2 linked regions of the Homo sapiens genome follow. The protein of the gene in region 1 interacts with the protein of each later gene in a pairwise test. Each region holds a gene or a part of one and is shown in the gene's direction. Other genes may lie near its edges.

Region 1 (3,651 bases):
GGGAGGCTTATAATATCTACCACACACATGTTTGAAACGAGTTGTTGAAAAGAGTCAAGGAGTTTCCCCTTTTCTCTGAAATGATTTCTACTTCCTATGTGAATTTGGATGCCTTTAGATCTTATCATCTTGACCCTTCCCACCAACGGGTATACCTTGTCTATCAATTACCCATCCATCAGTCATCTATCTACCATCCACCCACCCATCCACAGAGACTCTCTTTTTGACCAAACTTTAGTCAGGCTCCCCTGAGCCCTCTTCTCAACTGGGCCTCAACCTTGGCCCGTAAGAACTGCAGCTTTCAACACAAACAATTTTGTCTGTGCTCCCACCCTCCAACGGATTTGAAAACACTGTAGCATGGTGTATTAGCCTGTTCTCACCTTGCTGATAAAGACATACCCAAGACTGGGTAATATATAAAGGAAAGAGGTTTAATTGACTCATATAGTTCAGCATGGCTGGGGAGGCCTCAGGAAACATAGAATCACGGTGGAAGGGGAAGCAAACACGTCCTTCTTCACATGGCAGCAGGAGAGAAAAATGAGCAAAAGGGGGAAAAACACCGTATAAAACCAGCAGATTTCATGAGAACTTACTGTCGCGAGAACAACATGAGGGTAGTTCCCCCATGATTAAATTACCTCCCACCTAGTCCCTCTCATGACACATGGGGATTATGGGAATTATAATTCATGATGACATTTGGGTGGGGACACAGCCAAACCATATAACATGGCATCTAGCAGCCTAAGGCCATGTGTCTGGGATCACCCAGCCTCACTTGCATTCCTACCTAGAAAAGCTCAAGGCTGCCCCAAAGAATTTATCTTTTGTTCTAGCCCACACAAATGATAATAGGCCCCTGACTTTCATTTTGTTAGATCGTTTATTAAAAACTTACAATTGTAATTCTTTCTCTGTGCCTTTGAGATATATGTGTATCTCCTACCACCTGGAGTGTCTTCCTCAGTGTCTGTGAGCCATTCCTTTGAAGTGTAATCATCAGGGAGGATAGGGCTCTGTCCTCTAGTCTCTGTAGATGGGTAGGAGCCTAACTTTGACAAGTGCCATTTAGCAGTCACAGATGGCCTAGTCTCATTGGCAAGCCCCCTTGCCTGATTGCTGTAATGTTCTGTGTCCTTGACCCTGCTTGAGCCCCCACACATTCTCATTTCTCCTCCCTACTTCCTTATTCTCCCTTTAAAACACCCAGTCACCTCTACCTGAATTGGAGTTGAGCTCAGTTCTATACTGAAGTCTCTTTCTCTCACTGCAGTTGTACTGGGTAAAATCTGTCTTTACTGCCTTTAACCAGTGTCTAGCTTTTTTTTTTTTTTTTAAACACCATCCAACAAAAAAGTTTGAGTGTCTCCATAGGCCAGGCACTTTTACATATTAGGTATAGAGCAGCAAATAAAACAGACAAAAACTGCATCCTTGAGGAACTTACAGTGTAATGGAATGAATCAGATGAGGTTAAGTACTTAATATATCAGGTATGGATACTGCTATGGAGAAAATAAATCAGAGATGGGGGAGCAGGAGTGGGTTATGGGGAATTGCTATTTCAAGTAGTGTGGTCAGGGAATGCCTCACTGAAAGGAGATGTTGAGCAGAGCCCTAAAGGAGATGGAAGAGTGAGCCACCTGACCAGAGTGCAGCTGGCATTTGTGGGGAGCACAGGGAGGCAGCTGCAGGCCGCAGTGGGGGAATCTCATGCTCATGGCCAGCTTTTCCTCATGACAGCAGCCCCATCCCCCACTCCAGCCACCTGAGGCTGCCCACGAACACTGGTGTTGTTCTTGGGGCCTTAGTGGTATGGTGGCTTGGAACTGAGGACCTCTCAGGGCATCGGAATCCAGCCTAGACCATACCTGAATAGGAGTAAGGAATGAGAGTGTATGTTTTCAATGATGGCTCCCACTGGTTTGTCATAGGAAAGAGGCTGGGGGCAAGCTCACTCCAGCCTGGATTCCCTGCAGTCACCCTGGGAACAAATGGAACTATGATGTATAAAAGATGTGGACAGTGGAAACCACACGGCTCTTTCTCGAGGAATGTCTTAATATCAGGAACCTAGAACAACTTTCTGATTTGAACTGAGCCTAGAGAGAATCCCCAGCTTAAAGGGAACTGGGGTTGGTTAGGGTTTGAGGAGGGGAAATTACTCAGTCATTGACCGAGGCTCCTGCATGCCCAGATGGCTGCTCAACATCTGCTAACCAGAACAACACACACACACACACCCCTGGCAACAGGCTGTCATGAATTTCTCCATGGAGAAGGTGAAGAAACCATTGGGGAGCAGCAGCCAGGGCCTGTCTGCTGGTTTTTAGTTACAGCCTTTCTATACTCATGGGGACAGGGGTATGGAACCAGGATGGGATAGCTGTTTCATTTTTTAAGCTGTTAGCTTGTAACCATTTTAAACTCTCAACAACCAAAACACAAATCTCTCATATAGAGGTTCCTTGGATTGTTTGCTGGTGGGTAGGGAGCATCACAGCAGCTTGAGTGAGCATATGCAGCTGGCATTGGGGAGGTGGCATTTATAGGAGTCTGGTGTTCCTGACTCTTCTCTGTGCCTGTCATGACTTCATGTGGTCTCTTACTTTGCAAGCTTCTCTCACGTGCCCTATTGTATTTGGAAAATGGGGAACTTAAGGTCATTCCTGGGTATTTGATACTCCTCTTTAGCTTTTGTAAGTGGGCCTTCTTCTAATTGGTTGTATATATTCTATATGTTGGTTGTATTACATATAACCAATAATTGATATATAGAAAGCTATTCTAAAATGTAATGTAACCAAGCACTTTTCAAGCTCTTATTAATTATAACCTTGTTTTGTGGTTATTTTCCTTGGATTTTCCAGATAGATGGTCATATCATCTGCTAAATAAGTAAATAAATCAATAAATTTAAAATACATGGTTAGATGAATGAATAGATAAAAAATGATTACTTTGGTCTCTTTATTTCTATTTTTTATTATCAGACTAGATAGAAGACGAGACTGTTTATCTGTTGAGAGATTTTAAAAACAAGATTATTGTATTTCAGCCAAATGTACTTCCCTTGTCCCAGAGAGGATAGGCTATATGATCTCTGAGGTCCTCTCCTTATTAGTCTTTTTACTCTGTTTACTGTAGACCCATTGTACCAGTATGTTCAGTTCCCATAGAAAAACAAAAGAGTGTTTACACACAGTCATTATAGATAAGCCAGCAGTGTGTGTGATTAGGGCCAAACCAGTATTGATGATGGCCTGATACTGACTTTAGAAAGTTTGACTCACCTTGCAGAAATGAAAAGCCAACATAATGCATTAGCGTCTATGAAGACTGTAATAAGGCAAATACATTTGTCCAGAAACAGGCTGATATTGATACACTGATTTTAAGTGCTTTTCCCCAAAAGTACAATAGAGAAAGCCAGGAATATATAGCCTTGGATTACAATAAATGATAATAAAACAGCAGAAGCAAATAACACTTAATAGGGAAGTTTATTTTCCACACTTCATCAGATTGCTACTGCAGAGTACTAGTCTAAAAATTTAATATGAACACTAGCTCTGTAAATACGGGAGAAGTAATCTCAAATCATCCTGAATTAATTATCTTTGTGCTAAGCTGTTTGACATT
Region 2 (3,651 bases), on another chromosome or scaffold:
CACCCTTGAGCCCCAAGTGGGGCCACCTCCCCTGGCTTTGGAGAACACCAGAATCTCTCACATTCCCACAACACGTGACCTCTCACGAGCACCTCATGCATCTCGGGCGGCACGAGAGGGCGAGGGGGAGGAGTGGGCAGTCTTGCTCAAGAAGGGGCTGGAGGGAGCGAGGGTGGCCCAGGCGGGCCTGCTGTGCAGAGCCCACCTCCTGGCTGCTGGATCCCCACTCCCCACTCCCCACCACAGCAACCTGAGGGCCTCCTTTCTGGAATCTTCCTGTATCAGCCTCCCACACACACACCTCCCCACTGGAACCTGCCCCATCTTGGGGACAAAGGCCACCTGGAAACTGACAAGGTGGCGACCCCGGCGGGGGCCTGGCTGGAGAGGGGTGGGCTCTACTGAGCAGGGCTATGAAGGGCCGTGGTGGACAAAGGCCATGGGACCAAGGGGGCGGTGAAAGAGGAAGGAGGGGCTCGTGGGGACCAACAGAGGACCCCGAGTTTACTGTGGAGAGGCTGGGGTGAGGAGCCATCCCTCTCTCCCTCACAGGTCCTCTGGCTTTCCTTAGAATCTGCTCTTCCGCCTGATGGAAGGCCTACTCTCCTGCCCAAGGGAAGATCTGCTCTCCCGCCCAGCAGCAGGCCCCTCCTCGTGATGGGACTGCTGGGGACCGTGATTCTTCTGTCTGAGGTCGCATAACGCCCCATGGCTCAAGGTCAGAGACCCAGAAGGCAGAGGCGGGAGGGTGGCCCCACGCTCCCTGACCCTCCACCCTGATGTCCCAGCTACAGTCCTAGGCAACCAGAACAGAGCTGCCAGGCCCCGCCAAGCAGGTGACTCCCACTGACCTGGCTGCCCCAGAGAGGCCATCACCCCTGAGATCCCGAGGCTGACCCTTCCAGCCTCTCTGCTCTGGGCTTGGAGGAGGTCTTTCCAGAGCAGACCACCCGGACCAGTGGCCAGAATTCCCACCCTCCCCCAAAAGCCAGAACTCCCTCAGCCTCTGGCCAGAGCTGCTGCCTCCCCTCCTTCCTGCCATCTCTGTGCTCCACTGGGATAGCTCGGAAACCGTCACCTGCGGTGCATTTGGGAGGAGAGCTCTGGGGCTGTGTTCCTGGAACTCTCCAGGAGCCTCCTAGGACACGCATGAGGTGTGTTTGGTAGGAGAGCACCAGGGCTATATTCCTGGAACTCTCTGGAAGCCCACCTCTGAGGACACGCGTGGGGTGCATTTAGGAGGAGAGCTCTGGGGCTGCGTTCCTGGAACTCTCTGGAAGCCCACCTCCAAGGACACGCGTGGGGTGCATTTGGGAGGAGAGCTCCGGGGCTGCGTTCCTGGAACTCTCTGGAAGCCCACCTCCAAGGACACGCATGGGGTGCGTTTGGGAGGAGAGCTCCGGGGCTGTGTTCCTGGAACTCCCCGGGAGCCTCCGAGGACAGTGCTCCCTTGTCTGTCTGTGCAGCCACAGCCTCCTAGGCCAAGCAGAAGAAAGTCATTCATTCATCCCGAAAATATGTAACGGGAGCCAGCTCCATGCCACGCTCTGGTCTGGGCTCAGGATATGCAGCGAACAAGACAGTCCAGGACCTGTCATTTAAAGGTGCAAGAAAGCAGAGAACACAAAAGCAAATGAATCCACGCACAGAGTGCTCAGATGCTTGTGATGGCAAAGAAGAGACGGCCACAGGCAGGGACGAGGCAGGCGCGACCTTGTCATTTGCCCGGCCTGGAATGGCCTCTCTGAGAAGGTGGATTTAGGGAGAAAACCAGAATGACAGACACACCAGAAGAAGCCAGACACACCAGGCAGGGGAAAGAGCCAGGGACAGGCCCGCGGTGGGACAGGTTCGGCGTGTTTGGGATGAGACAGAAGGCCAGTGTGCCTGCAGGTTGGCACAGAGCGAGGCTCTAACAGGAGCTGACCACAGCCCCAAGGCAGGAGGTTGTGGGATGCACAGCGGGGAGCCCCAAGCTGAGGTTACACAGGGTCTGAGGTTGATGATTAAATGAGTGGCTCCCACTGCTGGGCCGGGGACAGAAACGGGAGCAGGAAGTGGCCAGTTTGGAGGTGGCTGCAGGACCCAGCCGGACATTCCAGTGGCGGGGTGGAGAAGCTGCAATGTGCACAGATTCCAAATACCTTTAAGAGGCACGACATTCGAGGTTTGTGGACAGATTATGTGGGAGGGTGAAGAAAATGCAAAAATGAAAGATGGGTCCAATGCTTGGGTCCTGAGCCACTTGCTGACATGCTAAACTGTTGGGGACAGGAGTCGGGGGGGCCGAGACTTGTTTCGGCCGTGATCAGCCTCAATGCCGGCGACGCGGCCACGTGCAGCTGTTCCTGGGCACAGGTTGTGCAGATGAGTCCACAGCCAGGGATGCAGTTTAGTCTGGCAATTTAAATTTGAGACTTGTCAACACAAGCTATGGGACTCAATGAAAGCCCCCAGCCAGAAGGAGTGGACTGAGAAGAGATGGTGACCACACCACTCACTGAGAAGGCGGGGCTGGTGAGACAGGAAAAGCCAAGAGCTTGTCATGGGTCAAGAGGGGAATGAGGCCAGGTGCGGTGGCTTCCGCCTGGAACCCCAGTACTTCCAGAGGCCGACGCAGGAGGATCGCTTGAGCCCAGGAGTTCAAGACCAGCCTTGGCAATATAGTTAGACCCCGTCTCTGTAGGAAATTTTTTTTTAATTAGCTGGGCATGGTGGTGCGTGCCTGTAATCCCAGCTACTGGCAGGGAGACTGAGGTGGGAGGATCGCTGGAGCCCGGGAGGTGGAGGCTGCAGTGAGCCTTGTTCCTGCCACTGCACTCCACCATGGGCAAGAGTGAGACCTTGTCTCTACAAAATAAATCAATGAAAGAGAAAGGAGCGGGTTTAGGGTTTAGAGAAGTAGGAATGTGGAGATGTGTGTGGTGGGGAGGACCATTCATGCCAAATGTCACATCCGGAAGGGGACCAGAGGACCCTTCAGCCCGAACCCCTCAGGCAGACGAGGATGCTGGAACCCAGAGGCGTTAGCTGACTGGTCCAAGGGCACCAAAGAGTGGCTGGTGGTGTGTAAATGCCAGTTTTAAGGTCCTGGTCCCGAGTACTTTCAGCCACAACGCCTGCCTCTCTGTGCTCAGGGGCTTGGGTCCTGAAGCAAGTCTTCCAGCACTAGGCAGGGAAGTGATAAGGTTTCCATGGCGCTAGAGTCCACAACCATTTGTTCTCCACATTAACCAAGAGAGGGACTCAGAAAAAGTCATTATTCAGACTCACACACAAGGAAATTGAAGCACAGAAAATCAAAGATCATGTGACTCTGCATATTCTCACACGGCTTTTCCCCAGAGGAGCAGCCACGGTGGCGTCCCAGCAAACCTGCTCTCCAGATCCCCCTCAAAAAGCCCTGCTGTTGGCCCTTACCCATTTCTGCGGCGTGAATACTCCCACCATGGCCCATTTCAAGCTACCAACGTGAGGTCACCGAACACAAAGTAGGGAAGAAGCCCGCAGAATCATCTTTCACAAGCAGCATCTGCTGGGCTGAGCAGGTTGCTAAGAGCTGGGGGGTCCGAAGTTTTCATCACAGCCTGGTAAAGTCCATTTGGAACTAGGCTGTCTTCTGTGGCTAGCTTCTTTTCTTTTCTTTTCTTT

Evidence for each region. Proteins that work in one complex are often made in the same cells at the same time.
Region 2: the proteins of MTUS2 (region 1) and ENPP7 interact in binary tests that used the Homo sapiens proteins (3 or more experiments, as listed by UniProt).

The regions. Positions count from the first base shown.
Region 1 is NC_000013.11:28,823,339-28,826,989, forward strand, and holds part of MTUS2 (microtubule-associated tumor suppressor candidate 2), read left to right. Parts: intron 1-3,651. UniProt on the Homo sapiens protein: Binds microtubules. Together with MAPRE1 may target the microtubule depolymerase KIF2C to the plus-end of microtubules. May regulate the dynamics of microtubules at their growing distal tip.
Region 2 is NC_000017.11:79,737,345-79,740,995, forward strand, and holds part of ENPP7 (ectonucleotide pyrophosphatase/phosphodiesterase family member 7 precursor), read left to right. Parts: intron 1-552; coding exon of another isoform or gene 553-571; coding exon 572-702; 3' UTR 703-718; intron 719-3,651. UniProt on the Homo sapiens protein: Choline-specific phosphodiesterase that hydrolyzes sphingomyelin releasing the ceramide and phosphocholine and therefore is involved in sphingomyelin digestion, ceramide formation, and fatty acid (FA) absorption in the gastrointestinal tract.